Linked DNA regions of Homo sapiens. The protein of the gene in region 1 purifies or fractionates together with the protein of each later gene. This does not show direct contact. Each region holds a gene or a part of one and is shown on either strand. Other genes may lie near its edges.

What was found. Proteins that work in one complex are often made in the same cells at the same time.
Region 2: the proteins of PPP3R1 (region 1) and CNN3 purify together in Homo sapiens (co-immunoprecipitation; one large-scale study listed by IntAct). This does not show direct contact.

What each region holds. Positions count from the first base shown.
Region 1 is NC_000002.12:68,246,033-68,249,532, forward strand, and holds part of PPP3R1 (calcineurin subunit B type 1), read right to left. Parts: intron 1-3,500. UniProt on the Homo sapiens protein: Regulatory subunit of calcineurin, a calcium-dependent, calmodulin stimulated protein phosphatase. Confers calcium sensitivity.
Region 2 is NC_000001.11:94,920,611-94,924,110, forward strand, and holds part of CNN3 (calponin-3), read right to left. Parts: exon of another isoform or gene 2,258-3,500; intron 1,612-2,257; exon of another isoform or gene 1-1,611. UniProt on the Homo sapiens protein: Thin filament-associated protein that is implicated in the regulation and modulation of smooth muscle contraction. It is capable of binding to actin, calmodulin and tropomyosin. The interaction of calponin with actin inhibits the actomyosin Mg-ATPase activity.

The sequences.
Region 1 (3,500 bases):
CTTTTTACCCTTTTTACTGACTTTTTCTTTCTTTCTTTTTTTTTTTTTTTTTTTTTTTTTGAGACAGAGTCTTGCTCTGTCGTCCAAGCTGGAGTGCACTGGTACAATCTCAGCTCCCTGCAACCTCCGCCTCCCGGGTTCAAGTGATTCTCCTGCCTCAGCCTCCTAAGTAGCTGGCATTACAGGCACGCGTCACCAAACCCGGCTAATTTTTGTATTTTTAGTAGAGACAGGGTTTCACCATATTGGTCGGGCTGGTCTCTAACTCCCGACCTCATGATCCGCCCGCCTCAGCCTCCCAAAGTGCTGGGATTACAGGAGTGAGCCACCGTGCCCGGCTCTGACTTTTTCTTTCAACCCCAAGATAAATCCTTCCTCAAAACTAAATTCTCTAGCTTTCACCCTCTCTGCTACTCAAAGCTTTAAAAAGCAATCTAAATTCAATGTCTCACTACCTCCTGGCTTCCCTTGCCACCATTACAACAAACTACTATTGACCAAGTCATCAAAACTCTCCTGTTATCTCCAAAAGACATCTTTAAGTTCTCTTTCTTGATCTCTGCAGTATCTATTCACTGCTGACTCCTTCCTCTTTAAGACTCCCTTCAATCTGGCATCATGCTATGCTGCTCATTTCCCAACTATCTCTCTGGCTATTCAATGACAAACTTCACAGGCTCCTCATCCTCTACCTGCCTTTTTACATGCACCATCTTTAGAGTTCACTCTCTTCACGTCTCATTTTATATTCTCTCTACACAGGATTTCATCCAGTTTCACGGCTTCAACTACTACCTAATATAAATGCACAGACAATGCTCAAATCTTTAATGCAAGCCCCAGATGTCTCTTATGAGCTCCAGATATAGGTAGCCAATTACCTGTTGGCCATAATCACCTAGATAACCCAAGATTACTATTCCCTGCCCACCTCCCGCCCCCCAAAACAGTCTTGCTCTGTCACCCAGGCTGGAGTGCAGTCACACAATCTTGGCTCACCACAACCTCCACCTCCCAAGCTCAAGCCATCCTCCCACCTCTGCCTCCTGAGTAGCTGGCACTACAGGCGTGTGCCACTGTGCCCGCCTAATTTTTGTATTTTTGTACAGATGGGCTTTCACCATGTTGCCCAGGCTGGTCTGGAACTCTTGAGCCCAAGATCCATCTGCCTCGGCCTCCCAAAGTGCTTGGATTGTAGGGATGAGCCACTGTGCCTAGCCCACCCATGATTCCTTTAAATTCAGCATGTGCAAAAATAAAAATTCTCATCACTCCCCCAAAACCTTCTTCTCCTACATCTCCTAGGAGAATGTGCATTTCTAACAAGGTCCCAAATGATACTGATGCTGCTAGTCCAGGATCCACTTCTTGAGAATCACTGTTCAAACACATGTGCCTCTTTCTACCTCCAGGCTATCAAGTTCTTTCTGTTTCTCCTAGGCCATGACATGTATGTAGCAGGCACTGTTAATATTTCACAGCACTCTATCCTATTGAAATTGGAGTCTTGCAACATAGCATCCCAAGCACTAATTACCAAATAATAGAAGCCTAGAGATGAAACAATAGTCATCCCAGCAAACTGGAAGTTTCTCGAGGACAGGAACAGTATTCCCCATGTATTCCTAAAACCTAACCTTAACCAAGTAGGTGCTCAACAAATATTTGCTGGGTGGATAGCATTATCCAAAGCCAGAAACCAAAGCAGAATTCACCACCTCTTTTCTTCCCCATAATCCAATAGTTACCAAGTTCTTTCTTCTACCGCCTAAATGTATCTCCTGTAGGATCCCTACTATCTATCTGCATTGTTACTGTATTCTTTCACATCCTTCTGTCTCATATAAATTACTATAATTATTTCTGAATCCTCATGTCTAGATTCATCTATCCTATTATCCACCCGGCCATCAGAATGGTCTCTTTAAAAAAGTAAATGAGACAATGTCATTCTCCTGCTTGAAAATAACTTCCCACTGCTTTTAGGAGAAAAAAGATTAACTCCTTCATGATATGCAAATCCCTCTATGATCTAGTGTCAATCCACCAGACACTACCCCCTTCCTCTCCAGCCACGCTAAACTAACACTGTAGTTCTCTGGATGGCTTGTATATCTCATGCTTCCATGACTTCGAACAGAAGCTCTCTATGTGGTGTGCCCTTCCTCACTGGCTAAATACTCATCCTTTCAAGACTCAGTTCAGACACCATTTCTTCCAGGAAACTTTAAGTGACATTCATCCCCAGTGTGGATTAAGCCTCTTCCCTGCCATGTGCTCTTACAGCATCCCATGTTTAGTCTGTTAATAGCACATAGCACACTGCATAATCACTGTCTTATTTACCCTACTTGATTAATTTCCTTGTAGATAACAATTATGTCTTAAGTACATATAGTTAGTGCTAGGTACATTAAGAGACGCTTGACTCAACTTTACACATTCCTTCCTATTCTCTAAACAGTGGTTCTCAAAGTTCAGCCTATATCACAATTACCTGGAAGACCTATAAAACTTAAGACTGCTTGGCTCATCTCCAGAATTTTGGATTCAGTTGTTCCAGGGTGGGGCCTGACAAGTTTCCAGATGATGCTGTTGCTGTTGGTTCGGGAACCATCAGTGCTCCAAATGTACATTGTCTCTTCCTCCCTTTAGGATTTAAAGTGCCTTCTTCTAGATGCCTCCAACTCTGCCTACTGCAACGCTGATCTTTTTAGACCCAGCTAGCTCAATTACCACCTCCTTCATAAAACTTTTCCTAATCCCAGGTGAAAATGATCTTGCTCCTTCTTAAATTTCTATCATGCTTTGTGTGTACTATTCATATGACACTCATCACATGCTAACTTACTTCACGGTTACTGCCATTTGTCTTACATTCTCTACTTAAATGAAGGTAGGAAACCTGCCTTAATCATTGCAATATCCTCCACAACAGAGAGCACAACAACCAGTAAACGGCAGACAAAATCTACAAGTATTTGTTGATAGGAATGAATCCCTGTTGCTTGCCCCAGACTCCAGGCCCACTGTCTGACTTAATATCCTCCTGGCCCAAGGTGACTTCCTTATACTGCCTTACTACCTATAACAGTTGCCTGATCCTTCCATACTTGTCTGTCCCTCTCATTGCTGACTGACCCTTAGTCAGCTTCTTTACTTTATACCTTGAACCATTTTAATTTTCTCATTCACTATGGGACAAAATGAGTGGATAAATTTTCTCAGGACAGATGTGAATTTTAATTCCGCTGGTCATAAGACAGGTTTTTTTTTTTCTAAAAAGTGGCCTTTGCCACAGAATCTGAACTAGAATATGTTGTGTAAAACTCTACATACAGTTATAGACGGCAATAAATTTGTTTTAAGTTCTAGATGCAGATCATGGAGATAAAAAAAAATTTAAAAGTTTAAAAGCACAAAGACATGAAAAGGCCTTTATAAAATTTAAAGTTCCCTTAAGAAACAAAACGTAAAACAATTACCTTTATATTATGTTC
Region 2 (3,500 bases), on another chromosome or scaffold:
TTTTACATACAAGACAGGCAGGTTAAGTCACTTGCCAAAGTTCACAGTAAGATGCAGAACCAGGAATCCAACCCAGTTCCCACAGTCCATGTTCTTAACCACTAAGCTCTACTTTCCCTGACAAGAACCTTGTATGACAGGTATGGAGAAGTCTTCAAGTTCAAAAGGGTTCACATGGCCATAGGTTTTTGTAAAACTTAAAAGATATTTATATATTTTTCATAATGAGGACCCCCAAATTGTATAAACTTCGTCCCCACAAACAACCTGGATCTACCTATGAGTTCCAAGAATCCTTAACAAAAATCTGAGGGTACAAGTACACATAAATAAGTTAAGAGCCCATTTGGGCTATAAAATAAGTTCAGAGTTAAGGAGAGCCAATGCACATGGTATATGCTACAGGAGGGTAATGCCTAGATTTAAATGGAACTTGCCAACAAATTCTAAGGACAAGCTTTCTCCAACCACCACCTAGTTTCACTGAGAAAGAAAATGCAGGGCTGGGCACAGTTGCTCACACCTGTAATCCCAGCTCTTTGGGAGGCCAAGGCAGGTGTTATCACTTGAGGTCAGGCGTTTGAGACCAGCCTGGCCAACATGGTGAAACTCCAACTCTACTAAGAATACAAAAATTAGTCAGATGTGGTGGCAGGTGCCTGTAATTCCAGCTACTCGGGAGGCTAAGCCAGGAGAATTGCTTGAACCTGGGAGGTGGAGGTTGCAGTGAGCCGAGATCGTACGACCTCACTCCAGCCTGGGCAACAGAGGGAGACTCCATCTCAAAAAAATAAAAAAGAGAGAGAAGAAAATGCATTTCCTCACTCTCCTGAATACAATGCTAATGATGGGTGAAAAACCAAAACGATCCAATTGTGCTTACTTTTTTTATGCCGCAGATCAGATTCATTATGACTTTAAGGATACACTGTTAAAGAGGGAAAGGAGGCAGGAAACACTAACCCTCATGTCCCAACCTGGAAGGGAAACAGGCACTGGGGAAAAAAAAAGCCTATACCTCTGTTGATGGTGGGTATTAGCGATGTCATCATTGTCAAGATTGTTTCTGAAATCTAAAGGACTGTCTAGAGACAGAACAATTTCCACAAATGTTAGACTGTAAAAAATCAGTGAGCCTGACGATAATCCTCGTTAAAACTCCAGAGTAAATAAGGATGAGAATTTTAAAGAGGAAGCATGGTATCTCTTGTCACTTCAGCAAAGTGTATCTTATTTATCTGTTTTGGTCAAGACAGGAAAACAAAAACTAAAGCAGACCAACAGCAATAGCTGGTTCCTACCAGGAGCAAAGTCCCTGGCTGAATGGCCCCTTCTCCAGCAGTATTCAGGAAAATGCAGGCACTGGACAAATCCTTGCAGAGGACACCTCTACCATTCCTAACTTGGAAGTCTAAGAAAGAGCCCAGTCAAAATATCTATCTTAAGAAATAATCCCAAAATCAGCAGCAAAGATGAAAAATTTCAACATAATATTAACTATTTAACTACTTAAGAAAAACAAGGCTAGGAATGGTGGCTCACACCTGTAATCCCAGTGCTTTAACAGGCCAAGGCAGTAGGATCACTTGAGGCCAGAAGTTCAAGACCAACCTGGGCAACATAGCGAGATCAAAAAATAAAATATTTTTTAGAATATTTTCTTTTTAACCACATCCTTCAAAATCATCACACTTGCACTACAGAATTATCTTATTTAGACTACAGAGTTAATTTCTAACTTCTTATGTCTAGAGATAGCAAAATCTATTCCCGATGAATAAATTCATTAAATCAACAAATATTCAAATATTTATTGAGCATATGCTATGTGCTAAACTATATTGTAAAATATCGATCTTGAGACACACCCGCGAATAAGAGAGCTTTATCTCTGGTGGGAAGAGACAGATAATAAGCAAACAAAAAAAGATTTTAATTAAAAACCAATTTCTGAACTTCCAAGTTTAAAAAGAAAAAAGCTAAGCCCACCAACACATTTTTACCAAGATTCTGGTGCTCTACCAGCAAGACAAGGCAAACCACCCTCGAGTGTAATTTATAGCTGGGTCACCCTGGGTTACTCTGATCAGAAGTACCCTCAGAGCAGCTGTGCGTCTAAAGCGCACCCGGCAAACAAGCTAGGAGGACTTCGCGGACACTGGTCCTATCTAATTATTACTGTATGATTGTTTAACTTCAACAACCAAAGATTTTGGTAATAAGCCTTTCAAGAAGGTTTTTAGGTGTTGAGAAATACCATTTTGTAATCAAGAAGATCCCGTGGGAAGCTGCTTTGCTCAAATCAGACATTCCAAGGGGGCAGAAGACTGGAAGAATGTGCATTCCAATTCCATGCTTCTTAATATTCCAGTTAGCTTCCTCCCAAAAAAACATACCGAGGTAAGATTATTTCAGCTCCCCATTTGTCAATTTATTTTTTCCACTTTCCCTGAGACCTGTAAGAAAGGTTCCTGCGGCATTTGCTCTAAACCTGATGAAGACATGCTTCACTGCGTCCTCTCTTCCCATCCAACTTTACGGGAAACTACCCCCAACTCCAACATTTTGCCAGGAAATACTGTGCTTCCCTTGAGTACCTGTTATGTTTTTTCATGGTTTACGAGGCACAGAGTTGTTTCACTTTTCATTTTGGTTCCCAAGATGCATTCAAGGGCCTGGTTCAACCTGTAGAATACCTGTAGGGCCCATTATTTTATGAGTGTTTCCATCCTCCACCGAACCATCCCTACCAGTGTCTGCATTTTCCCTGGCCCTTTTACTCTCTGATAGTTTTTGTAAACTCTAAGTTATTGATCATTTGGTGTCATTTTTTTCTTTGTTATTAAAGAAACTTTGTTCATATTCCAGGCTGAAAGACTGGAATTCTTAGGCTTTTTTTTTTTAAGGCTGTTTTCACACATCTTCTTGCCTATTAAAAAAAGTAAGCTTGTGTGTTCTGCCATGTATTATCATCTTACCAATCAAATGTCTTAAAGATTTTTCTCTGAAATTTTACTGATTAAAGTATTTAAAATCAGAGACTTCCTCAATTCATTGATGAAATGCTTTTACAGCTAGAATATTATATAACAAGACCAAAAGGTATTAATACAAACCAAATACTTAAAGAGGCAGGGACATACAAATCTTAGAAATATAATACTAAAAACTAATTTTCTGTTACTAAGAGCTAATAGCTACAATACAGTCACTGAGTTGAGTATAAGCCAGACACATCTCCACAACATGGTGTCTGGGGGTGGCAACTATTGTTTTCCCCCATTCTACAGAACAGAAGCTAGGAGAGAGATGTCAAGTAGCTAGCCCAGCATCACAGAAGGCAGGAAGTGGCAGAACGGGGACTAGAACTCACATATGCTAGACTCCCAGGTCCACTCCACACTGTCTCCCCAGGATGTTTCTATACTTCTTTGTTAAATGAGATGTGGGGGTAGATGGGGGGAATCTAGCATTCAAGCAATGTATCAATTATGCAATAA